5 separate regions of the Homo sapiens genome follow, and regions 1, 2, 3 and 4 are each reported to be linked to region 5. Evidence: microRNA targets listed by miRTarBase, many of them from high-throughput screens and not tested one by one. Region 5 holds a microRNA gene; each other region holds the end of a gene's coding sequence.

The links. Region 5 holds the annotated microRNA hsa-miR-578 (CUUCUUGUGCUCUAGGAUUGU, at 1,520-1,540, opposite strand). A microRNA usually pairs through its seed, bases 2 to 8, with sites in the 3' UTR of a target mRNA and lowers its output. Matches are read on the target gene's strand: a 7mer-m8 pairs with bases 2 to 8, a 7mer-A1 pairs with bases 2 to 7 and ends in A, and an 8mer does both.
Region 1: miRTarBase lists TULP4 as a target of hsa-miR-578. Seed matches in the 3' UTR shown: 7mer-A1 at 2,777-2,783.
Region 2: miRTarBase lists LSM5 as a target of hsa-miR-578. Seed matches in the 3' UTR shown: 8mer at 4,680-4,687, 7mer-A1 at 3,579-3,585 and 8mer at 3,468-3,475.
Region 3: the mRNA of RABGEF1 is a reported target of hsa-miR-578. Seed matches in the 3' UTR shown: 7mer-A1 at 3,738-3,744.
Region 4: miRTarBase lists POF1B as a target of hsa-miR-578. Seed matches in the 3' UTR shown: 7mer-A1 at 925-931.

Annotation. Positions count from the first base shown.
Region 1 is chr6:158,506,075-158,511,182 of GRCh38, forward strand. It overlaps TULP4 (TUB like protein 4), which reads left to right. Exons shown (of 14, transcript NM_020245.5): 14 at 504-5,108. The coding sequence ends at 620. Among named protein-coding and RNA genes, the nearest start is that of TMEM181, 51 kb to the right of the region's middle. RefSeq lists an enhancer at 411-911.
Region 2 is chr7:32,482,529-32,487,636 of GRCh38, forward strand. LSM5 (LSM5 homolog, U6 small nuclear RNA and mRNA degradation associated) reads right to left here. Exons shown (of 5, transcript NM_012322.3): 5 at 2,810-4,765. The coding sequence ends at 4,733. Among named protein-coding and RNA genes, the nearest start is that of LSM5, 5.3 kb to the right of the region's middle.
Region 3 is chr7:66,808,272-66,813,379 of GRCh38, reverse strand. RABGEF1 (RAB guanine nucleotide exchange factor 1) reads right to left here. Exons shown (of 9, transcript NM_014504.3): 9 at 1,916-4,494. The coding sequence ends at 4,096. It also overlaps the pseudogene GTF2IRD1P1. Among named protein-coding and RNA genes, the nearest start is that of RABGEF1, 70 kb to the right of the region's middle.
Region 4 is chrX:85,275,134-85,280,220 of GRCh38, reverse strand. It overlaps POF1B (POF1B actin binding protein), which reads left to right. Exons shown (of 17, transcript NM_024921.4): 17 at 795-2,825. The coding sequence ends at 800. Among named protein-coding and RNA genes, the nearest start is that of ZNF711, 34 kb to the right of the region's middle.
Region 5 is chr4:165,382,734-165,387,841 of GRCh38, reverse strand. It overlaps MIR578 (microRNA 578), which reads right to left and starts at 1,600; the gene lies at 1,505-1,600. All of the region lies in intron 1 of CPE (carboxypeptidase E), which reads right to left.

The DNA.
Region 1 (5,108 bases), not on the chromosome of region 5:
TCCCCTTATTTCCTGCAAACTTGGAGTTAGATATAGAAGCTTCACCAGATTCAGGGTCACTTTTGTTAGCAAAAGTATCTCATAGACGGTGCTGTCTGCTTCCATAAGGAGCCATGCAGACCCGGCTGTCGCCTTGCTCGCCTTGTTCTTTTTTTTTTTTTTTTTTTTTTTTTTTTGAGATGAAGTCTCCTCTGTCGCCCAGGCTGGAGTGCAGTGGCCCAATCTCAGCTCACTGCAAGCTCCACCTCCCAGGTTTACACCATTCTCCTGCCTCAGCCTCCCGAGTAGCTGGGACTACAGGCGCCCGCCACCACGCCCGGCTAATTTTTTGTATTTTTAATAGAGACGGGGTTTCACCGTGTTAGCCAGGGTGGTCTCTATCTCCTGACGTCGTGATCTGCCCACCTCGGCCTCCCAAAGTGCTGGGACTACAGGCGTGAGCCACTGCGCCTGGCCTTTTCACCTTATTCTTTAATGTCTTTGCTTCCCCTGCCCTCCTCCAGGTGATGCAGTTTGGACGGATTGATGGCAGTGCGTACATTCTAGACTTCCAGTATCCGTTCTCAGCCGTGCAGGCCTTTGCAGTTGCCCTGGCCAACGTGACTCAGCGCCTCAAATGAAGAGACTGGTGTGGGGAGGAGAGAGATGCAGAGAGCCTTTGGAAGAGGTCTTCGGAGATGCCAGAGGAGCCCTCTAGGGGTCCGATGCCTGGGAGGACCAGAAGCCAACAGCAAAACTGGAAAAGCCCGGCAGGCCCAGGAGAGGGCGCTGACCTGTGGTCGTCATTTATTTGGTTGGGTTTTATTACCTTTTATTGTCTGTTCTTCTTTTCTTCTTTCATTTCAGTGGCATTTGGAAGCAAAGAGTGCTAGGCACCTGCTGTTCTTTCAGGAAACAGCTTGGCTGTGGTAATGCTCTACTGGGCCCTTCAGAATGAAGACAGTCTGCCTTAGAGCCTGCTATTCTTTTAGACATAGGGAGGATGCATTATCCTGTATTCTCCTCCAACATCACCACTAGCGTAAAAGCAAAAAGCTTTTACAAAACACAGCCAAAAATTCTCAAGATGCAGGTTCTTGGGGAATGGGATGGGGACAGCATTTGATTTACACTGATTATGTTACTCCCCAAAAGGTGACTTAATTAATAAAGGGCATTTGGGCAGACACACTGTGTTGGACCAACAAAGTAGGCTCTTTACAGGGGTGTTCTCACCAGGTAGAAATGCGATTTGCTCACTGAGGATGTTGGGGAAGGGACGAAGGGTAAAGAAGAAACTGCACGTATACACAGGTTCACATCACTCTGCAGACAGCAATGTGACTCAGCGTGTGACTTGTAGCAGCAGTACGAGGGCTACACTCCTCTGCTGAGGATGTCTACATTGAAAGCCTCCACTAGTTTCATCGTTTGTCAAAGTTCCGTAGGATCAGTGATGGTCATTCAGCATGACTGGTTCTGGGAGAAGGTGAGAGACAAAAATGGAAAGATCCTGGCCTGTGGTAGTGGTAGCAGTTTTCTCAAATAATGTGGTGACAGTCACTAGATCCTCACATGCTGAGAAACAGCCTCTACTCTCTCTGCCCCTTTTACTTTTTAATCTGGAATGCATTACTGTAAACATGATCTTTCCCATGAGATACCATGTTCTATGCCTTCCCATTCTAAAAGTGTGGACAACGCTTGATTTGAAACCACTCCTTTTCTCCTCTTGGCTACATTAAAATTCAGTTGACTACAAATGCTTTCTATCAAATTAGAAATGTAACCAAAAAAATGTTAAGTGTTCACCAGGGTATTAAAATACAGAGGAGTATGGTCAAATCTTTGACAAAATTTTCATGATCTTCTCTAACAAAAAAAGTTGTTTATTAACTGTACAGACTGTTTACTAAGGAGCTAAACCACTGAGAAAACGTTATTAAAATTGTAATACCTAGGTAGTTGGTTGATCACAGTTTGTTAATTGTATAAAAAAAAATTACCTAGAATATCTCTTCCCACTTCCTCGTCCTCGTGAGAACCTGTGGGCAGTATTCAAGCCCTGATGACAAAACCCAGTGTTTTTTGTTGTTGTTTTTTGTTGTTGTTTTTTGTTTTTGTTTTTGTTTTTCTCAGTCTTACCTGTGATGTTGTTTAGGATCAGGCCCCTCTCCTGGGCCTGCTGTGCAGGAGCACAGGAACTATCTGCTGGCGTTGGGTTCCAAATTTGCATTTTATTTGGAAACAGACAAGTAGAAGATGCTACAGAAAAGTATTTTCAAATTTAAACGTTTTTTAATCCCCTGTTTTAGTTAAAAAATTGGAAAAGAAACCGACCCATTTTTTTCCCAGATCAAGATGACATGACATCACTCCCAATTCTCTCCAAACCCCAGAGAAATACTGACGAAGTTTTCTGATGTGGCAAAGGATATTTCCCATCTAATACCAGTTTCTCATTTATATTTAACGTATTGGACCTGATATTTTTAGTGGGTGCATTCTTCCAGAAAGAATTCAGCAATGTTATCAGAATTAATTCTTTTATATGAGTTTATGTAGCTTGATATGGTGTTTCAGTGCTTATTGGTTGTGCAATAATGGTTATAGCCTGTTAGATAATCTAAATGCAATTCCCCTGTTTTGTCGTTTAGGAGATAATTATTTATCTTGCTTTTCATAGTGTTCTTAGGAATTATTTTGTTGTTACGTTTTGGTGAGTTATACCCATTTTATTTATTTAGAAAAATAGTATCTTTGTTAACGACTTACATGGTCACAGTATATTTTGCTGCAAGAAATAAAGAGGATATGATAGAAGGTTTTTTTTTTTTTTTTTTTTTTTTTTTGAGACGGAGTCCCACTCTTGTCGCCCAACTAGAGTGTAGTGGCACAATCTCGGCTCCCCACAACCTCTGACTCCAGGGTTCAGGTGATTATTTTGCCTCAGCCTCCCAAGCAGCTGGGATTATAGACACCCGCCAACACGCCAGGCTAATGTTTTTGTATTTTTAATAGAGATGGGGTTTTGCCATGTTGGCCAGGCTGGTCTTGAACTCCTGACCTCAGGTGATCCGCCCGCCTCGGCCTCCCAAAGTGCTGGGATTACAGACGTGAGCCACCACTCCCGGCCCATAGAAGGTTTTTTGCTGGATAATTTGTAACTTTTCTAATTGGGAAAAAATTCCTATTAATCACTTAAAAATTTTTTTTTGTATTTTGTGTTATTGATTATATACAAAGGAGACTTTTTTTTTGAGATAACACTCAAATAGTATTCTCTTCTTTTGAAAATTTTATTTTTATCTGAAAATAACAGTTGATCTGAAATAAAAAGGGGAGACCTATTAGAATGAGAGTAGCCAAGGAAAGAGTTACTAGGTAATAAGCTTCACTTTTTGTGTTCTAATTGTTTTTGAGATATAAAGACCCTGAAAAAGCCCATTTTAGAACCTGTTTAATAAGAGCAAATATAGGGGAAAATCTTTGAAATGAAAGCTACAAATACATGTGAGAAGAAAAAAATGGATTTTTTTAGCAAATAATTAACTAAGCTTCTAAATGCCTAGCTCCCTCCCCCAAAGGCGCTTTCCCCCGATGGAGGCACAGGCTTCTGTCTCGGATGTTTGGCGCACGTGAGTTTGTATGAGTTTGTACCGGAGTGACCCCGGCAGCCACTGCCCACCTCCCCTCTACCCAGGGGCCTGAAAAGAGGGGCTGCCCTCCTGCGCCAAGGCAGACACAAGCTGCGGGCTGTGCGGTCCTAGTAGTGTGACGTTTCAGTTAATAGTGGTGGTCTTATTTTCAACTATGCTTTCATTCAGTCAGTCTCTGTTGACTAAATACGACGAAAATTCATACTTTATGCAGGAGATTTCTAAAAATTTAATGTTTATTAATAGTTTATGAATATCAAGATACCTCATTGAATCCCTAAATTTAAAAGCAGTCCAGTAAAAGGTTAACTGTATAAAGAATCTATGACTTTTTGAGGGAAGTGTGATATATTAACAAATATAACCAATTCTAAATTTGTTTTAGCTCTAACCTCATCAAACCAAAGGCACAGATTTGTGTACAATATACCCATTGAATGTATATCCTGAGAAAAATTGGGGCCAAAGAAGCAGGAAAATCTCAAAGCTCTAATGGCAGCATAAATCAAAGAATTTCACAGGCTAGTGTTTTTATCCATAGCCATTGCTCCCTTGTCAAGTGTCTCACAAGGACATGGAAGAATGTGTTATGTTCATCTTGTAATCATAGCAAAAAGTCTGCAAACCCCAGGGTCAAGCCTGCTCTGCCACAGGGTTGGATGGTGACCTTGGGCAAGTCCCTGGGGCTGGCTAGGCCTCCACTTGTCCATCTGTGAAATGAAAGGATCAGCCTGGACAGCCCTCTAAACTCCCTTACAGCTCTCAGCCTAAGAGCGCAGCACTGAACAGCCTCATCATTCCACTTTTCATGGGAAATATATTTCACACCATTGCCTTTGTGTAGAGAAATATTTCTTTTCCTGTGTTAATGAGCTATGTACTGAATATAAACCAGTGCATTTAAAGTAATATCTTTTGTGCACCTCTAAATGTGTTTGGAATTGTGTTTGTTCTCATAGAATATACAAAAGTACTGATTCTAGGTAAGAAGGAGTCTCCACGGGTGTGCCCTGCTCAGCTGGATGTCCATGAGAACAGCCATGAAATAAGTCACTACTTGTCCCCAAAACCACAGGAATATATACCTAGGTCACCTCAAATTCCTGAGTGTGCTCTGCCATGTTACACGGTCTTCAAATTGAAAAGGTTTCTTGAAAAGGAAAGTTTGGCCCAGCAACTGGAGAAGGAGTCCATGGTGTCGCTGTGTGCCTGTATCATTTGGCCAAGTCAATGGTTGTAAGCAAAGTTAGTGGAGACAAAAATGTGTCCAAAATGTCGTTTGAGTTCCTGGGATTTCTGTAATAGCACACAACTCAGAACTCTTCAGCATTTGTGTGATTCCTTACCTCTGGCTGATAAAACTCTAATGGGTTGTGGCTTACTTTGTTTCCATTTTCTTTGGCTTTGTGCAATTTTTGTGTAACTTTACTTGTACCTATATTTTCTGTTTACAGTTCTTTTTAAGGGGAG
Region 2 (5,108 bases), not on the chromosome of region 5:
TGTTTCCAGACTACTTTAGGGTGTGAGTCTGAGTGGACTAGGTGAGATACACCTTCAATGTGGGCCAGCATTCAGTTGACAGAAGGTCCAAAGAGAACAACACAGAAAAGGCAACATGTCTGTCTCCCTCCTAGAGCGGGGATAACTCTTCCTTCTCTGTCTTTGGATATAAGAACTCCTGATGTTCTGATGATGTTGTCCTCTGAGGACAGAGAAGGAAGAGTGATCCCAACTTTAGGAGACCTCTGGACTCCAGGACTTACACCAGTAGCCCCCTGGGTTCTCAGGCCTTCAGCCTCAGACTGAGAATTTTATCATGAGCATCCCAAGCTCTGAGGTCTTTGGACTTGGACTGAGCCACATCAAGGTCTCCAGCTTGCAGACAGCCTGTTTTGGGGCTTCCCAGCCTCCATAATCGCATGAACCAATTCTCCTAATAAATCCCCTTATATATCTATATACATATACTATTGGTCATCTCTGGAGAACCCCAACTAATAAATGGTCTAACCTGGCATATCAGCACACCAACACCCAATAATAAAATGCCAACAACAGAGATGCCCAAATCTACATATAATCCTGTGCCATTATCAAATTTACTGGAATTCAAAAATTAAACCTCCTTCCAAATCAAAGTCCAAAAATGTTAAACTCCACTAGAATTAAAATCCAAAACTAAATACCCTTATTTTTGTAAGTTAAGAATCAACCAGCCTAGGCAACATGGTGACACCCTGTCTCTACAAAATATTAAAAAATTAGGCCAGGCACGGTGGCTCACAACTGTAATCCCAGCACTTTGGGAGGCCAAGGCGAGTTGATCGCTTGAGCCCAGAGTTTGAGACCAGCCTGGGCAATATGACAAGACCCAGTCTCTATCAAAAACACAAAAAATTAACCAGGTGTGGTGGTGTGCACCTGTAGTGTGGGAGGATCACCTGAGCCCGAGAAGTCGAGGCTACAGTGAGCCATGACCACTGCACTCCAGTCTGGGTGACAGACCGAGACCCTATCTTTAAAAAAACAAAAAGAGAAAAGATAGCTGGGCATGGTGGCACCTGCCTGTGGATCCAGCTACTTGGGAGGCTAAGGGGGGAGAATCGCTTGATCCCAGTGGTTCGAAGCTGCAGTGAGCACTGATCACACCACTGCACTCTAGCCTGGGTGACAGAGCAAGACCTTGTCTCAAAACAAACAAAAAATGTCCAACATTCTTAAGTTAAATGCCCAAAACAACCTTTCCCAAATCCTTATTCTGTTCAGTCTTAACCAGAAGGGGGTTTGATGCTTAGGTGGTTAAAGTCCTTTCAGCAGCCACAACCCAAGCTGTTACTCATGGGAAAGTAATTTCTTTAGGGCCTCAGAAGTTACACTAGATATGCCTCAGATACATCACTTTTTAAAAATTGAGATGTAATTCATGTAACATGAAATCCACTCTTTTAAGGTTATAATTCAGTGCTTTTTAGTATATTCACAAGGTTGTGCAACCATCTAATCCCAGAACTTTTTCATCACCCCAAAAAACAAACCCATACCCATTAGCAGTCACTAGTATAGTTGTCTATTTCTGTGAATTTGCCTGTTCTGGATCATATAAATCAAATATGTGGTCTTTTGTGTCTGGCTTCTTTCACTTAGCATAATGTTACAGTTCATCCACACTGTAGCATACACAAGTACTTCATTCATTTTAACAGATAATATTCTATTGTATGAATATATCGCATTTCAGTTATCCATCCATCCATCGATGGACATTTGGGTTGCTTCCACTTTGAGACATTAGGAATAATGCTGCCGTGAATGTTCATACAAGTTTTTGTGCAGACATGTTTTTAGTTCTCTTGGGTATGAACTGAGGAGAGGAGTTGCAGGGTCGTATGGTAATTGTTTAACTTTTTGAGGAATCATCAAATTATTTTCCACAGTGCATGCATCATTTTACATTCGCACCAGCAAGGTACTAGGGCTCCAATTTCTTCATATCCCAGCCAATACTTGTTACATTAATTTTTGTACAATTCTTGTTACAATAATTTTTTATAATTATAGCCATTCTATAGCACCCATGAAATGGCGTTTCATTGTAGGTTTTGAGACGGGGTCTCACTGTCACCCAGGCTGGAGTACAGTGGTGCAATCATAGCTTACTGAAATCTCAAACTCCTGGGCTCAAGCAATTCTCCTGCCTCAGCCTCCCAACTACGTAGGACTACAGGTGCATGCACACTACCACACCTCACTAATTTTTTAAAATTTTTGGTAGAGATGGGGTCTCACTATATTACCCAGGCTGGTCTCCAACTCCTGGCCTCAATCTATCCTTCCACCTCGACCACCTACAATGTAGCACTGGGATTACAGACATGAGCCACTGCACCTGGCCTAACTCCTATGATGAAAAAAGGAAGAGCTTGGGTATGACTATTAGCTCCCCTGGGATAGCAAATAATAAAGGGGTGGAAAGAAGCAGGTGTTACATCACTTACTCCCCTCCAAAGGGAAAGAAACAACAGTGGAGGGAAAGCATTGCCCCCAAGAGTTAGAAGCAAAGTGTGAGGCAACCAGCTCATACTGGCTCCTGAGAATCAACTGTCAAATCCTTGAGAATTTTGCAAACCAGTTGTTAAAGCCTTGGTAGCTTGAAATTAGCCAAGGCAGTAGTACTGACAACATGTAAATCAGAGAAAACTACAAATCAGTGCTTTGTGTTTTGGAAAATAAGGTTGGATCCTTTTTCCATGTGGTAATACCAAAATTCCAGATAGATTCCAGATTTAAATCAAACGCAGAAAACATAAAGTGCCCAAAGAAAAGTATAATCAAAGCAAAGGTTTTCCAATCCACGTGGACCAAATACAAAAACCATAATGGACTAGGTCAACATGCAACTACATTAAAATACATCATTTATGTCAAAAATAGCACTAAGTGGCAAACTACAAACTAGGGAAATTATTAGCAAAATACATGACTAACAGAAACCCATCAAGAATTCTTACAAATTAGTAAGAAAAAGACAAACATCTCAATGGCAAAAGCCTCAACAGATAAGTCATTTACAAAATACAAATGAGATCAAAATTAATCAAGAAAATTTTAGGCCAGGCCTGGTGGCTCATGCCTTTAATACCGGCACTTTGGGAGGCTGAGGCAGGTGGATCACTAGAGGTCAGGAGTTCAAGACCAGCCTGGCCAACAAGGTAAAACCCCATCTCTCTAAAAATATAAAAATTAGATGGGAGTGGTGGCGCCCACCTGTAATCCCAGCTACTCAGGAGGGTGAGGCAGGACAATCACTTGAACCTGGGAGGCGGAGGTCGCGTTGATATCGCGACAAGGCACACCAGCCTGACTGGAGGTTGCAGGGAGCCAAGATCATGCCACTGCATTCCAGTGAGACTCTCCAAAAAAAAAAAAAAAAAAAAAAAAAGGAAAAGAAAACTTTAGACATGCCCGGTTTTCTTGTAAAAATGGCAAAGAGGAGAGAAGGTAGAACACAGCTAATGCTGGGAAGGATATAAATGGTACTATGAAAGACTCCTGGCAAAAATATACATTGGCACAAACTTTTTCTTGGCAACACAATATATACCCTTTGATCTTACACATTTTTGAGTTTATTCTAGAAAAATACAAATGTATAAAGATCTAGTTAGACTACTGTGGCCAGTAAGAATAGGCTAAATAATTTATAGTAAATCCATTTAATACTATGTACATATTAATGTTGAAATATTTGACACAGAAAGATATTCACCATTTAAATTCAAAAAATGACTTAAGTGGAGGGTAAAAACAGTATAATCAGGATGAGCAAGTAAAATAAAACGTGTACTGAGAGTGGACTGAGAAAGTCTACGAAGACATACAGCAAAGCATGATCAACCTTCTCCTTTTTGCTTACCTACAATTCTACGATGTGCATATATTACCTGTTTGTTTTTAATAGGAGTTCTTTGACTTAATTTATACAGTTCAATGATCTTATTATCAGTTCCTTGATTTGACCTGAGTCCTGGAGTTCTTAGCTGCTTTTAGTATCCTTTATCTTAAAGCTCTGTCTCCACTCATTTCCTGGCAATTCAGTAATAACTACATTAAGGTAATAACCTTCTGAATCAATTTTATAAGCAAATAGATAAAATTTCTATCTTTAGGGTAATTCCAATAGATAATTCCTGCATTTCTACAATGTGCATATATTACCTGTACATTGTTTGTTTTCAATAGGAGTTCATGGAATTTGAAATCAGAAGAAAAATCCTCATTACAAAACAACAGCATTTTAATTGAATTTTCTAAGTGATCATTTCCGGTTGTTTAAATGCACCTGTTCAAATCAAAGTTCATCATTTTGTTTGGAACAACTTTTGTTTGAGAATCAAATGGTCACGTAAATGACAAAACAAATAAGCATATAATGACAGAAAAGTAAGTGGCAAAATAACTACAAACTTTGTTCCACTGGCTACTGCAGTAGAATAAACAAAATGACAGTTAACCAAAAACACCTTTATTTTCATCTGCAAAGAAGAAGCTCTTTTCTTCTTTTTCCAGGATAATCATGATTAACTTACAAAAATGGGTACACATCTTCAAAGCACTTCCCTTTAACGGGAAACTTAGCTTTATGGGATTTAAACATTAGAAAGTGGGAAAAAAAATTCCATTTTCTTGTCATTATAAGCCAAAACAAAATCTAGTGTAAGTCAAGGAAACTCATTCACACTTCAGGTCCTTCTCCTCCAGGAACCAGCTGCATAAAGAGGAAAAAGAGTTTATTAATAACACTACCACCATGTCATCTAAAAACCCCTTGCTCTTCATTAAGCCACCTTTGCCTGTCCCCTGCACTCCACGTTCCCATTTTCTCCAGATTGTCAGTATCTATTTACAATTCCCAACGTCATCAATTAATACTTACTATCTCAACAGCGATTAAAAGTTCCAAGCAAACTAACCTTTAGACCCAATGCCTCTTCAATAGCTGAGCTTTAGGACCCTGACCACAGAGAACCCCTTTCCCATCTTATGCACCACTGGGCCATGATCATTTAGTCAAGCAAGCAACATTAAGGTTAGTTCTGTAATCACTGCTC
Region 3 (5,108 bases), not on the chromosome of region 5:
GAGAGGACAGGAACAAACACTTCATTCTCACCTGGCAGGGCTGGAAGTTCAGTCTCCACCCATCCTCTACTGACACTGTGGAGAAAGGGAAGTGCCCTACACTTCCAAAAGCAGGGGGAGGAGTTTCAGGTTCCCCATTCAACCTTTTTAACACACTGAGGAACCTGTGGGCAAAAACTTAAGTATAAATTTCTTTTTTCGGTGGGGTGGGGCACGGAGGCTCATGCTGGTAATCCCAGCACATTAGGAAGCCAAGGTGGGAGAATTGCTTGAGCCCAAGAGTTTAAAACAAGCCTGGACAGCTGGGCGCGGTGGCTCACGCCTGTATTCCCAGCGCTTCAGGAGGCCGAGGCAGGTGGATCACGAGGTCAGGAGATCAAGACCATCCTGGCTAACACAGTGAAACCCCATCTCTACTAAAAATACAAAAAATTAGCTGGGCATGGTGGCACGCACCTGTAGTCCCAGCTACTTGGGAGGCTGAGACAGGAAAATCACTTGAACCCAGAAGGTGGAGATTGCAGTGAGCCAAGATCACACGACTGCACTCCAGCCTGAGTGACAGAGCAAGGCTCCATCTCAAAAAAAAAAAAAAAAAAGATCAGCCAGGACAACATAGTGAGATTCGTCTCCATAAAAAATTTAAATATTAGCTGGGTACAGTGGCACACACATGTAGTCCCAGCTACTCAGGTGGCTGAGACGAGAGGCTAGCTTGAGCCCAGGAGGTCCAGGCTGCAGTAAGTCATGTTCACACCACTGCACTCCACAGCCTGGGTTACGGAGCCAGACCCTATACCCCCCAGCCCAAAGAAAAACAAAAACAAAAAAGAAGAATTTCACGATGGCAGCTACAGAGCCCTAAAGTCCAAGCACAGGGCCCTTTGCAGTCACACCTTTGTGCTTCTCACTCAATTTTCTGTTTTTCGTATCGATCCTGAAAGCTCTTGTTCTCTGTAGGTGATTTATATTTGTTTCTATTGTAAATTGATTTTTTTCTCCACAATGTTTGCTAAGTGGTTAGTAATGGTATATAGGAAAATCATTTTGTACAGTTAGCTTTTATCGCTATTTTAGAATTTTCATCTTTCACTAATATAGAGATGAAATTCTATAGTTTCAATATAAATTCTCTTGGGTTTTCTTTTTTTACATTTCTGTTTTTCAAGACAGGGTCTCACTCAGGCTAGCATGCAATGGTGAGATCACAGCTCACTGCCACCTCAAATTCCTGGGCTTAGGTGATCTTCCCACCTTAGCCTCCCCAGTAGCTGGGACTACAGGTACACACCACCATGCCCAGCTAGTGTTTTTTTTTTTTGTAGAGATGTGGGTCTCACTATGTTGCTGACATTGCTCTCAAACTCCTGGCCTCAAGCATTCCTCCTGCCTTGCCTCCAAAAGCGATTACAGGCGTGAGCCACAACACCCAGCCTTCTCTTGGGTTTTCTACATAAAATAACCATCTACAAATAATAGCTATCATTTGTTCTAAGTTCAGACAACAACCCCATGAAGCAGTAATATTATTAACCCCATTTCACAGCTGAGGGATCTGAAACAAGAGATTTGTTCAGGGCCAATGAGCTAATAAGTAGCAGAATAAAATTCAAAACCAAATCCAAGCCTTCCAGCTTCAGAGTTCATGTCCTCACCAACAGACAATAATAGCTCTATATTGATTACATTAACTCCTTTTTTCTCTACTTTTATGTCTGTTTGAAGACTGAGTACCTTGGTAGAACTGCAAGAACAAGGTTGATTGATTGTGGTGACAGCAAATATTCTTGTCTTCTTAATTTTAACTGACAAATGTCTCTAATGTTTCATTTTTAGGTATAGCTTAACCAGAAAACCTCTGTAGCATGAGAATATTAATAATAATGTATATTTTCCTAAGAAAGAACCAAATCAATTTTTGGAAGAGGGACGGATTGTGAAACTTTATTGATAAAGAATTCCGTTCCAAAGGTGTATTCCAGTCACATTTACCCTACATAAAATACCAACATCTTCTTATTGCAAAAACAGAAACTCCGGCCGTTGTATTGATGCTGACTTAAGAGAAATAGAAGCCTCTATATAAGGCAAGAGTCCATACCAGAAGAATTCGACCAATATGAGATACCTCCAAAAAAATCAACTCAATAACCTACTTTATATGTAAGAGACCCAAAAAAGTCAGCTTTTGTGGGAAGTTGATATGCAGTTTATTGAACAAACAGAGTGTACAGTAACTAAACGAACTGTGTATTTCCAAAGGAATTAAGACCGCATATCTGGATTCACACCTAAAAGCACATAGAAAATTAAACCAAAGAAGGGCAAGTTTTGTACTAAAATCACTTGGGCCCAGGTTATTCTATAAGAAGATTCTCACTGGCATTTGATAGTAACTTATCACCTTCTGTGCGAGCTTGGGAACCAGCTGACTCAGTGAACTGCTTCCTGTCTTCAGTGCGTGATGACACAGATGTGTCAAGCTTAATAGATCTTATATGTAAATTTAAGAATAAGAAGTTTTATACCCACCCTGGTTTTATTCCAAAGTTACTGCTCTGCAATTTTGGGCTCCATCCTTAGGAAGATACTGGAAAAGCAAGAGAACCTTTCTCAGCTGCCTGTGTGAAGTGACGTTGTTCTAGAACGGTGCCCTGGGGCCTCATGCACGATTTCACAAGTATAGCTGCATAATCTGTGGATGTCACTGAATGGAAGAAGAATCATCAATGGTATATTTAGGTTATAGAAGGTTCCACTGAGATAAGAAAAGGTTCTACAATGCAGGTAGCTGTCAAGCCTCCTAAATATTTAACTCGTTTTAGTTAACATCACACTGTGCATTGAGTGCAAGATTCTTTGGTTACACCATATTAACCACCAGGAGGATAACTCCTGGTTTGTAAAAGACATCAGTGGTTCTTAACGGAGGGGTGATATGGCCCCAGGAGACATCTGACTATGTCTGGAGAGAATTTTTCACAGCTCTAGCGGGGGTGCTACTGGCACCTAATGGATATGGATGGCAGGAATGCTGCTGAACATTCTACCATGCACAGGGTGGCCCCACAACAAACACCTCTCAGGCCACTAATATGAATAGTCCCGAGGTTGAAATGTCCTGAAAAAGGTTCAGAAAACATGTCTAGACGTTTGCAAAGTCAAATGTATATTATGGAGGCTGCAAGGCGCCCCTTGCATCTCACAGCTGAGGGACCCCGTCACCTCTCACCATCAGAGGCCCATTCATTCCCGCCTTCCATTCCAGGCCCAGTGCCTGCTCCTTCTCACTGAAGAACTCAATAGAGATTTGCTGAATGAATGAGGGAAAAATAAGCTAGAAGCATAGTTTAAAGTCTTCCATCGACTACATTAAACAGCAATTTTATGTGGCCTAAACTTTATTCTGAACCTTAGTGGTGTCATAGTCTCTGACTATATAGAACCTCAAAGTTAAGGCTAACACGTTCTTAAAGATGGAGTGCACATCTTAAGGGGAGTTTGTCTAAACACTTCTCGAGTCATTTTAGTGGGACAAACCAAATAAAATGGTGCTAAAGGCAAACATTCAATATACTTCATTTTAAACTAAAAAATTAACATATAAAATGCCATGCACAGCAGACACCATTCTTTTTTTTACATATTTACAATTTTACATATTTACTTATCAATATAATTTCTATCTTTACAATTATAAAATTATTCCAAACTGTGGAAGAGTGGTACCATTTAATTTTCTTGAACATACACTTTGTAGCATTCATTTGTTTAATCCTTTAAAAGGCAATTATTTACCAAAACCACAGTGAATGCCAGAGGAAGCACATAGGAAAATCATGGAGGGAAAAAAGATTGAGACAAAATTTGCACACAAGCCTTAAATGAATCTGTATCAGTAACTCAAATAAGTAGTATTTTATTATTAACTAAGGTTCCCCTGCTAGGAAAAACGAAACAATCCCCATATACTGTACCTTTAAAAAATGCTGACATTTATAAGCAATTTAGTTACATTCTAGATCCCAATCAGTTGAGTGTAGTAAGGGCTACCTACAATTTAGGCTCAAATAAATACTCTCCACTAAATTGTGATCATCCTGCATAAACTTGAGGTTGCAGTGGTGGAGGAAGTTTATCATTTTCAACGTTTTCAGAGTCAATAGCTGCTAACGGTTGATTCGGAGGCTTAATTTCCAGTGGGTATTTCTCAACGATGTCTTGAACTTCTCTTGCAATTCCATCTGTCCAATCTATGAGGTCTTTTTCCAGTTTCTTGGCTTCATTCATGATCCTTTCTTGTCGTTCATTCAACTGAGACAAGAGATCCAAGTTCTTATACATTTGCTTGACGCCTAAGCAAGCATCAGGAGACCAACTCTCAGCTTCTTGCTTCCTGGGAGAGGTCTGGCCAGACATGTAGCGATCAAAATCCTCCTGACTTAGATTCAAAGACTGGGCGTCTAGCTTCTCAATGAAAGCCACAGCACAGCACTACAAGAAGAGGACGTTAATACAGTCATATTAGGAAAGCTATGCATACTCGAGTCGATTTGTAAAAATCTTTTGATCACAGACCATTTAAAACAGAAGCTAAAGTAAACAAAACAAACTCATGAACTTCTGTGTATTTCAGCCTCAAAAATTACCTACTCCTATCCCCGGTCGTGCTTCCTATACACTCCCAGGAGCTCCAGGGCCGATGTCTGGGTGCAGCCTCCCCAGGTGCACCATGAAGCCATTCTGTCTGAGTCTTCCCAGACCTGCTATCCCCACCCAGGATATAGTCCCCAAGTAGGTGTGGCACACAGACCTCTGATCCTCAAATGAATATTTTAACATCAAGTGGTTAAAAGAACAGCTCCAGACCGGGCCCGGTGCCTCAAGCCTGTAATCCCAGCACTTTGGGAGGCTGGGACGTGTGGATCATGAGGTCAGGAGTTTGAGACCAGCCTGGCCAACATGGTGAAACCCCATCTCTACTAAAAATACAAAAATTAGCTGGGCGCAGTTGTGGGCGCCTGTAATCCCCGCTACCTGGGAGACTGAGGCAGGAGAATTGCTTGAACCTGGGAGGCGGAGGTTGCAGTGAGCCAAGATCACGCCAC
Region 4 (5,087 bases), not on the chromosome of region 5:
TTGAACAAGCTCAAATATTTGAGTCAACAAAAAAATTCAAAAAGTTTCTTTAGAGCTGAAGCCCTTCTTTAACTACAATCCAGCCATCAATCTTTTAAGTATGGTTGTTATCATCAATGAAAACAACCAATGTTTAGTAATCCCAAAGTAAAAATAACTGCATTTAAACTCTGAAATGTTGTTTTTGTTAGGTCATTAGTTAGCTGAAAATTACTTACTACTAATTATTAACCCATAGAATTTAAAATTGGCCACTCAAAGATAATTTGATGCCCAAAGTTAAGACTGAGAAGCAATTGCTGCCACTAACCCTAACCACATGTATCCCAGAGGTGGCAATATGAAGACCTGCCAAATAAAGTTTCTACAGAATAGTAGCCACTACTTCTCTCTCCATTAAAAATGTGCAGCAGTAAAAATCAAAATTGATATTTGAAGAATCTATAGATACTGATAGCAAGGTCAGAATATATTTAAATGCATTCACAGATGAAAATCCATATTTATTAAGAGACAATTGGACATATTTAAACTCTAAATATTACTAAGAAGGAAATCTACTTAATTGTCCTTCACTCTTGCTTAAAGTCATTTGAAACATACCATGAGTAAAGTAAGAAAGACAAATCATTGTTTCATTGAATATATATATATAAAAGAGTGCCACAAAAGTGCAATACATGTCCTTTGGTTTTATACATACCAATTTAAATAATTTTCCATAACTTTGCATATAGTAACAATGACTTTAATTATGAACCAGTTGTAAGATAACCTTTTTTTTTCTTTTCTAGCCATGAATGGATCCACTTTAAAGTATTACAACTCAAAGCCGTTTTTTTTTTGTGTGTGTGTCTCTGCATTAGTACTTTGTTATTTTTCCATCACTAAAGGCCAATCAGAATTTGGAACCATGCTGCTACCCAAGAAATCTAATGGAATGAATTAGTTCTGTAGATGACAATTTCTTCACCCATTTATGAGACCTAAATCTTTTCCATAACACTCATGTATTCAGTATAACAACATACTAACTGAAAGAGGGACCTGATTGTTTAAAGTTTGATTGCAGACACTGTAGAACATAACTCATTATGTTTCAGATAAGGTAACTCCTAGATATCAAACTAATTTGTTGGGGTAGAGATTTTACAAGTCATGCCATTAGAAGATTTTCTCTGATATTATATGTGCAGTTCAGTTACAAGATGAAATCATGTTTTTTTAACAAAAGAGATAAAATACAATTGAAGCAAAAAATAACAGCTAGTATATAATATATACAGTCTGTATTTGCTTTTCACAGTAGGCCTGATGACTAAAAGATATGCTTTATTACACGCTATTTTCACCTCTTGAAAGTCAAAGGTGATGATTAATTTCATTTAGCAGGGAAGTGGAATAATATCTTTTGAAATAACTAAGTCCACTAAATTATACAGTATGCTATTCTGGTTCTAAGTACATATTAGTCCCTTGGCAAATCTGTTCTTTCAAAGCATACCTTCCCCAAATGAGCCTACCTACTTCTTAAAAAACATATAACACAATGTGGTAGTAGTAGGTGTAAGGAAGGTAAGTTTTTTCATAGTGGTATGCAAACATATCATTGAAATATTACATAGATATAAAGACTTAGGGAATAAAAATAGCAGCAACAAATACTTGATAGATTTATCCTACTTGGGAGAAATATTTTGTAGCAGAGTATTTAGTATACTTAGAAGTTGATTTAGCAATTAGGCTTTAATGACCTTACAAAGTGAACATAACTGAACACAAGTATTTTTTCAATGCAAGATGAGGATGAAAATTTTACATTTCAACCCATCTGGCTAAAGTTAAGACTTAGCAAAAATTAAAATGTTGCCTTTGTCCAAGTATAGATTAAGGCAACAAACATATTTGGGTGTGTAATTTGAAGTTTTGGACTGAAATATCTTTGCAAGTATCCACATAAAATTCTGTAATGCCTTATAATTATATTCTAATAATTATGCATTATACTAAGACACCATTAAGAACAGTTGAGGCACTACACTAAATCAAACCATAAATGAGGAAAAAACTTTTAATGTTCTTTTCTAGAAGTGTTCAAATAGGTCTTGATATGAAGCTAAAAGCCTTATTTATATTATCTTAATATTTCGGCTAAAATGTTAAGCTCCATAACATGAATTGATACAATTCCAATTTTATCAATATTTTGTGATAGAAAAATGTTAATATTATTCATGAGCTATACAGTCCTTACATTTTTTCCCTTGGTGTAGGAACAACGGAGGAGTTTCTCCTCTGCTAACTATTCATATATGTAACTGTAACAAAAGTGTACTATGTTATGCACACATTACAAATAATATAAGGGGAAGTTTTATTAGCTTAGTAGGAAATTGTTATTATTAAGGTTTAAAAATGAGAACAGGTGTGAGTTTTCCAAAATACTTAAAAATAATAGTGTCAAAAATTCAGGGGCAGTTAAGGAGTCATGGATGGAACTAGAGGTCACTATATTAAGTGACATAAGCCAGAAACAGACAAACATTGCATGTTCTCAATTATTTGCGGGATCTAAAAGTCAAAACAATTGAACTCATGGATATAGAGAGTAGAAGGATGGTTACTAGTGGCTGGGAAAAGGGGTGTGCGAGGGGAACTGGGGATGCTTAATGTGTACAAAAACTATGTAGTTAGAAAGTATAAATAAGACCTAGTATTTGATAGCACAACCGGGTGAGTATAGTCAATAATAGCTTAATTGTACAAATAACTAAGAGTATAATTGGATTGTTTGTAACACAAATAAATACTTGAGTGGATGGATACCCAATTCTCCATGATGTGATTATTTCACATTGCATGCCTGTATCAAAATATCTCATGTATCTCATAAATATATACACCTATTATATATCCACAAAGATTTTAAAAAGTAAGAAGCCAGCACTTTATTGGCTCACTTGATCCATGGATAGTGAATTGGGGTCATAACAACGTCCTTATCATACTTAACAATTTTTTAAATTGTAATACAAAATGTGATGATATAAAGAGCTGTTCTATATATTTAAATGACTATTTAAATATATGTATTTCTTTTCCAATTTGTGATTAAGATCAATAGAGGTAGTAGTGATATATTTCCCTCTCATAAGTTTCACACTGCTTATCTCTGAAAACTTCAAAGTTGTCAGGTGAGGAGTGCCTATTTATCTAATTTCTATTCCAGTATGTTTTCACTTTAGATTTGTCACATAAAATGGAGACTGCGCAATGACATGCAAAGTAATCTGTTTATGTGTCTAAATAAAATATGTGAAGTATTTACATGGTTTGTGTGAAAGTCCAAGTAGGAAATATGCAGAAGGATTTTTAGCTTAGCTGTATATTTTTGTCAGGAAATTATCATCATGTGAATGTTTATGTTGGAGCTAACAAGCATCACTCTCATTAAAAACAAAACAAAAGCAGAAAACTTCCTTATGTGGACTACTTTAACATAGTTCAACCTCCAGTTGAAGCAAGTTTCTTCTTTAAATTAGAATTTCTTTGCTTTCAAACTTAGATTTCTAAGTTCCATAACTCACTTGTTCCATAAAGCATTCTTCCCATCCTTGTAATGGTGCTTTTGTTGCCTTACTCCTTCTTAACATAGACAGTACAAAAGGAACAAAATAAAGCTTTAAAAAACTTTCCATCTCACTACCCAATTTAGATCACCTTAACAAAAAGCCATCATCACACATTTCCCATTATTGCAATCTACAAAGATGACATGTTTCTTTTGAAAATAATTATTTTGAAAGTAAATAATATGTTGTGAAAAGGTTTCCTTATGAGGTACATCTTCCCCACCACATGCCAAAACTAAATTGACTGGATTTCCATAGTACTTTTTGTCCAGTTAAAAAAATACAAAGTATTTCATGCACAACTTAGGATATATGAAATAGTACATAGAAAACATTTAAATAAAGGAAGTAATAAACAAGCGCATCTTTCTTAATAAAACATTTAACAATATTTAGTCCTGAAGAAGACATACCTCAGAATTGTTTTATGAGAAAATTAGATAGCTAGGCAGTCTTGGTAATCTTAGATTGGCCTGACACAGACAATGAGATGTTGTTAAGTTCATAGCCTTTATGTTTGGTTTCCCATCCTACCACATTAAAAAAATTCTTTTTCAAATTGAAGTATATGTTCCAGAGATCCTTTATGTTAAGGAACAGTGCTTCCAATGTAATGCTTTGATTCTGTAGTTTGTTTGCTAACAGTGTTGAATACTTATAAATCATATGTACCAAGATCCAATAAGACAGATGAATTTCTTTAAATGGGAGAAAATATAGGCTTTTTGTTCTAGTTCCCTAAAAGGGTCTGATGAGCCAGCCTTGTCATGATGGGTGAATGGTGCTGGAATCTAGGATAAGAGGGTTTTGGAATCAGATGGGAGTGACTAGGACTTACATTATAGGTTAAATGAGATAGTGTCAATATTGTCAATTGGTCCAGATTTTAAAATGGAGGAGAGTTCCCTTTGGGGTAGTTACTTGGGTAATGCTCAAAGAGAAAGGCATAACTGAAACAGGCAAGCGACACATTTTTAGTTTAAGACATCTAGTGCTATACCCTTGAAGTTACAAATTGGCCAATTTCTTCTGCAGGACCTTTAGGAATCTAAAGACCCCTCATAACAATATCCAGTTCTTATCCAGGATCCAAGACTCTAAGAGATCTTTCTCAATCAGTTCCAAATTTACAAGTTATAATTCTTTTGGAAAGACAGGGTGGAGCTGAACAAAGTTGGGAGATTGGGAATGGTCTCAAACCAATTATATTCTAGGGTTCTAATCTAGCCCTGCAGCTTCTCTAAAGCCTTATTAGTTCAAAAAAATCGTACTGTATATAATTCCAAGCCTAGTCAGCTTTTTCTTGGTTCTCACAAGGGGAAGTTGAAAGAGTTAAATGAGATGATTATTTTGTTCCTCTGCCTTCATAGAGGACGAGTCATTTCCCCCTTGGAAGTAGGCATGTCAAGAATTGTGCTATATCCTTCAAAAATTGTTGCAAATATGTCTGGGATT
Region 5 (5,108 bases):
AAGACAAGCCTGACCAACATGGAGGTCTTTTTGTTTTAACAGAGTCTCACTCTGCGCCCAGGCTGGAGTGCAGTGGTGCGATCTCGCTCACCACAACCTCCGCCTCCCAGGTTCAAGCGATTCTCCTGCCTCAGCCTCCTGAGTAGCTGGGATTACAGGCATGTGCCACCACGGCTGGCTAATTTTTGTATTTTTAGTAGAGACGGGGTTTCACCATGTTGGTCAGGCTGGTCTTGAACTCCCGACCTCGTGATCCACCCGCCTTGGCCTCCCAAAGTGCTAGGATTACAGGTGTGAGACACCACGCCCGGCCAGGAAGAGGTTTTTTAGCAACCTGAATTTAAGTTATATTTAGGCTTATTTAGAAAATAAACAATTTGCATCCATTTTAAAATAATGAGCCTTTGTTTGAAATGAAATGTCTTCAAATGAGGGGATTATTATAGAACTATGATGTTTAGCAATGATTTGATAGTAAAGAGATTTCTGTAGAAAACAAAATATTTACCAGTAGTGGAAAGTTGTTCCACGGTGTATTATCATAAGTAATTCATTTATCTTTGCTTAACAGCCATCTCTTTAATACTCCACATGTGCCACCCTACCCTTCAAAGATTACTCATCTAGGGACAGTTAAAGAAGTGGGTAAATCATTTGAAAATCATAAAAGACACTAGTAACACAAACAGGCTCTTCTCTTAGGCCATGTTTTATTAGAAAAAGCTGGCTGTTAGATCACTTACAAAACACCATATCCTGAATGTTCAAAGAAAGAGAAACGTTCACAGAGCAACGGACTCACGGCAATTCCAGTAATTAATGAGAAGGAAACAAAAGGGCAAATTTAAACATGTTTCAAATTTAAGTTCATTTGACCCATCACGTAGCTCGGATAAACCTCCTCCTCTGTGGCATTTCAAAGTGCACGATTTGAATACCATTTCATGAGAAAAAGGAAAATGAAAACCTGGAGATACATATCTTCTGTGTTAAAAACAAGCACACAGTTCTTAGTTTTCAACACTCAGGTCTCATGCAGAGTTTTTAAAGGTCAAAATTTTACTAAATAAATGCTTACCAATTATCTTTAAAATGTTTATTTAACACTTAAAAAGCAGCTTAACTTTCTAAGATGTCTGAAGACTCTTCTCTTCCAAAAGGAAGACAGCCCCTTACTAGTCCAGTTATATGAGACAACAAACACAGCAAGTTCAGCACTGAAACTTGAAAAGACATGTAATTCACATTGGTATATTTCTCCATTATGCAAAACTGGATTCAGTGCACACAAAAAATAAGCATATGCAAAAGAAAAGTACCATCTCTATCCTTTCTTGTTATCACACTACTGGCATGCTAATATGCATGATGTCAACATCGACCAACATGGCTTTGTTTTATGATATGCATTTTTGCCTATTTGAGAAATTTCATTTATTCAAACATATTCACTGAGTGGCCACTATGTCCCAAGCATAATACTAGACATTCAGGATTAAAAAATATATATAAACAAAATACAATCCTAGAGCACAAGAAGCTACAGGAGCTATAGGAGCTTCTTGTTGTCCGGGATTGTATTTTGTCTATAGATTTATCTGTAGACCAACAGTGGGAAATACCATAATGAGGTAATAATAATTGTTGCCACATATTGAATTAAGAACTTTATATTTACCACCTCATTTAATCATCACATTATTGTCATTTCATAGGTGATGAATTTGGGAGATAGAGAGAAGTTAATTGACTTGCCCAGGGACACTCAGCTAAAAATAAGAAGCCTCAGGATTTGAGCTCAAGTCCCCTGACATCAAAGTCCACACTGTAATTCTTTACAGCTCTCCAAAGAAATATGGAAGCATAAAGAAAGAGCCCCAGCAGGGGTAAGAAAGTTAGGGAGCGGGGAGAAAGGAGGTTTCAAAGAGCTTTTGCTTCTGCTGAGACTGTAAAAGACTAAGTTAGTCAGGACTGGAGCAGTTTCATCATAAATTCTTTAGGAAAATAAGTCAGATTGCCAATGAAAATGTTGATATTGCCGTAGATTTATTTGGCTACCTAAAGAAACAACCATAAAGACATTCTCAAATACTGATGCACACTTTGTTCCTATTGAGTGTCCTATTGAGTGACGCTTGCTTGATTCAAGCTTGCTTGATGATTATTGTTCATCATCATGTCAAACTGAAGAAAAGCAAGAATGTCCCACATTTTAAAATTGATAAAAGGCAAACAGGCAGGGTGTGGTGGCTCACATCTGTAGTCCAGCTATTCAAGAGGCTGAGGAGGGAGACACCTTGAGCCCTAGAGTTCAAGGCTGCAATGAGCCATGATCGTGCCACTTCACTCCAGCCTGGGTGACACAGCAAGACCCCATCTCAAAAAAAAAAAAAAAAAAGCAAACATTTGTGAACAAAAATAAAACAGTAAGAAGAGGGAAAAAGTCCTTCAGGGCTATCAACTAAGCCTGTGCAACAGCATCCTAAGAGGAAAGCATTTGGCAGGATTGGTGGAGGCAGATCTCACGTGACGATGCAGCCAAGAGTGCCTACTCTAAATGAGTGTAAAGGCCATGGAGCACAGTTTCCAGACCAACTGAAAGTAAAAAAAGAATATTTACAAATTAGCATTTCTTTTTAATAACCAGATGTAAGCAACTTCATTAAATGTGTTTCTATATACTACACTACTTTGGCCTCACAGCGATCCTGTGAGTTCTGTGTTCTTAACGTATTCCCTTGTCATACACAAGGAAAAGAGGTGAACAAAAGTAAAAAGCATGAAGCTATTTAACAATAAAAGAAGAATTGTGGTGCATTTGTCTAACTTTAATCATTTTCATCAAAATTATGTGTCCTTTTCAGCTCTGTAAGAGAGAGAAAAAAGCAAACAAACAAAATTATTTCTCCTCTGCCTCATTGCCTCAGAATCATGCTCTGATTCTAAGCAAAACTTAAAAGCCTACTCTACATAAACCACTACACTAGCTGTTTATGGAGGGAAAAAATGGAAAACATATGTTCCCTACCCCTGAAGAGCTCCCTGTATGAGGCCCTCTGCTGGAGAATTGCCAACTGAATCATTTTTTTCTTTGTTCTACATCCAGTCTCATGTGACAAATGAATCTTTAATACTATGATAAAGAATGATAATGGGCTAATGGAAGTGTAACACTACTTCCAAGATAAGCTCCCTTTTTTATTGTTGTTGTTGTTATTTTGTTTCTGAGATAGGGTCTCGCTCTGTCGCCCAGGCTGGAGTGCAGTGGTACAATCATGGCTCACTGTAGCCTCAAATTCCTGGGCTCAAGCGCCCTCCTAAGCCCCCCAAGTAGCTGGGACTACAGGCAAATGCTACCATGCCCAGCTAATTTTATTTTTTTGTAGAGACAGGATCTCATGATGTTGCCTAGGCAGATCTCAAACTCCTAGCCTTAAGCACTCCTCCTGCCTCAACCAGGTGTGAGCCACCAGCCAGCGGGAGAGGAGGAAATCCCATGGTAAAAGCCTGGGAAATCTTATACAGTACGAATCTAACTTGGAGATTTGAAACATACATTAGCCTATTAAGAGCTCTGTTAGGTCTTTCAATATACAAACCTGTTTATCTTTGTTTACATAATGCCTATCAAACCATGCTGAATATATGTTCTATGGAATATATTTTGAGAAAAGCTGGGTTAATGTGTCACCCGTTACAAGAGCTATTTTGTATTTCTTAATAATATTTAGAAATAGGATTTCGCCCCGTGGTAAGACGGTAAGGGAGTTACTAGCAAATGAGTCGTCTGCCACCTCTGAAATCAGTTGTCACAGAAAGCTGCCTCTTTTGTCTGAGCAAAGGCTATCATGTAGGGGCAAGCCCAACTTGCCTTCTCTTCCATTAACCAATTACAAGTCAATCAAGAACATCACTTCTGGCAAAAGCTGTGTTGACTCATTCAGGTCTAAAAATAACTCTTGACCATGTGTGGTAGGTCTAGATTCTTCTCTAGGATCTAACATCTATCTTCACGAATTTTAAGTTGTTACTTAGTTGTAACCATTTGCCACTAACACATACTAATCTGCTATAAAAAGACGCCATACAAATAATAAAAATCCCCACTTATTTTTTTCAAGTTGTGTGGAAACTTTGCCAGCATTAAATGTTCCATCACAATATTTGGCAAATTCATACTGGCATTTATACACTTTATATTTTAACAGATTCAGAGAGGAATACGTCCAAAATAATCATTCCAGCCTTTGAGAAAGAAAAATCCTGCTCTAAAGAATGTTTTTGAGATAGCGTTTTAGCTATAAATCAGATTTACTTCCCAAAAGCTATCTTGAACTACGTGTAAAAGAAATAGTGTTTTAAGCAAATTAATCTTAACTCATATTTAACTCCGGGTCGAGTGGTCTGGGAACACAGAATCCATTACTTAGACATAAGTTAATAAAGGTTTCTTTTATGAGTACTGTATTTCGATGATGGATATACATGCCTAGGAAGGCATATGTTTGGGTTTGAATACGTGAGTCCTTAAGCATGGAAATAAGAAAAAAGTATAAAATCTAAGTAAAAGGAAAGAAAAACGGGAAAAATGATCATGCCTAGCAGGTATGATATCTAATGGGGACATATTTGAGCACTTAGAATCAGCCCCTAGCCTAGTCTAAGCCCATTCTTCATCCCAGTTCCAAATGGGCCACAAACACTAACTCCCAGTGTAGAGGAAACCCATCTGGGGTCCAGACTTAACAATGTCTGAAAAGATGAGACCAATGACAGGACCATTTGTGATTCTGCTTATTGAAATTGGCTGCTACTCGCAACTCTCTTTCAATAGATTTTTGCAGACCTCAGAAGTGATACAAAATGATGACTGAGACCCAACATTCAGCTGGTCAACAATCAAGCTGATTCCTAAGATGTCATCACAGAATAGGTTTGGCTATTCCTCAATGACCAATTCAAAATGGAATTTGCTTTGCCTTTTGATGAATTCAAAAGTTGAACATCTTGCAAAGAAAGTCATTTTCAGGAGATAACCTCAACTACACCCCATGTCCTGTACCAAGCATGTATAAAGATCACTTCTTTCTGCTCAGGAAGAGAGCTAA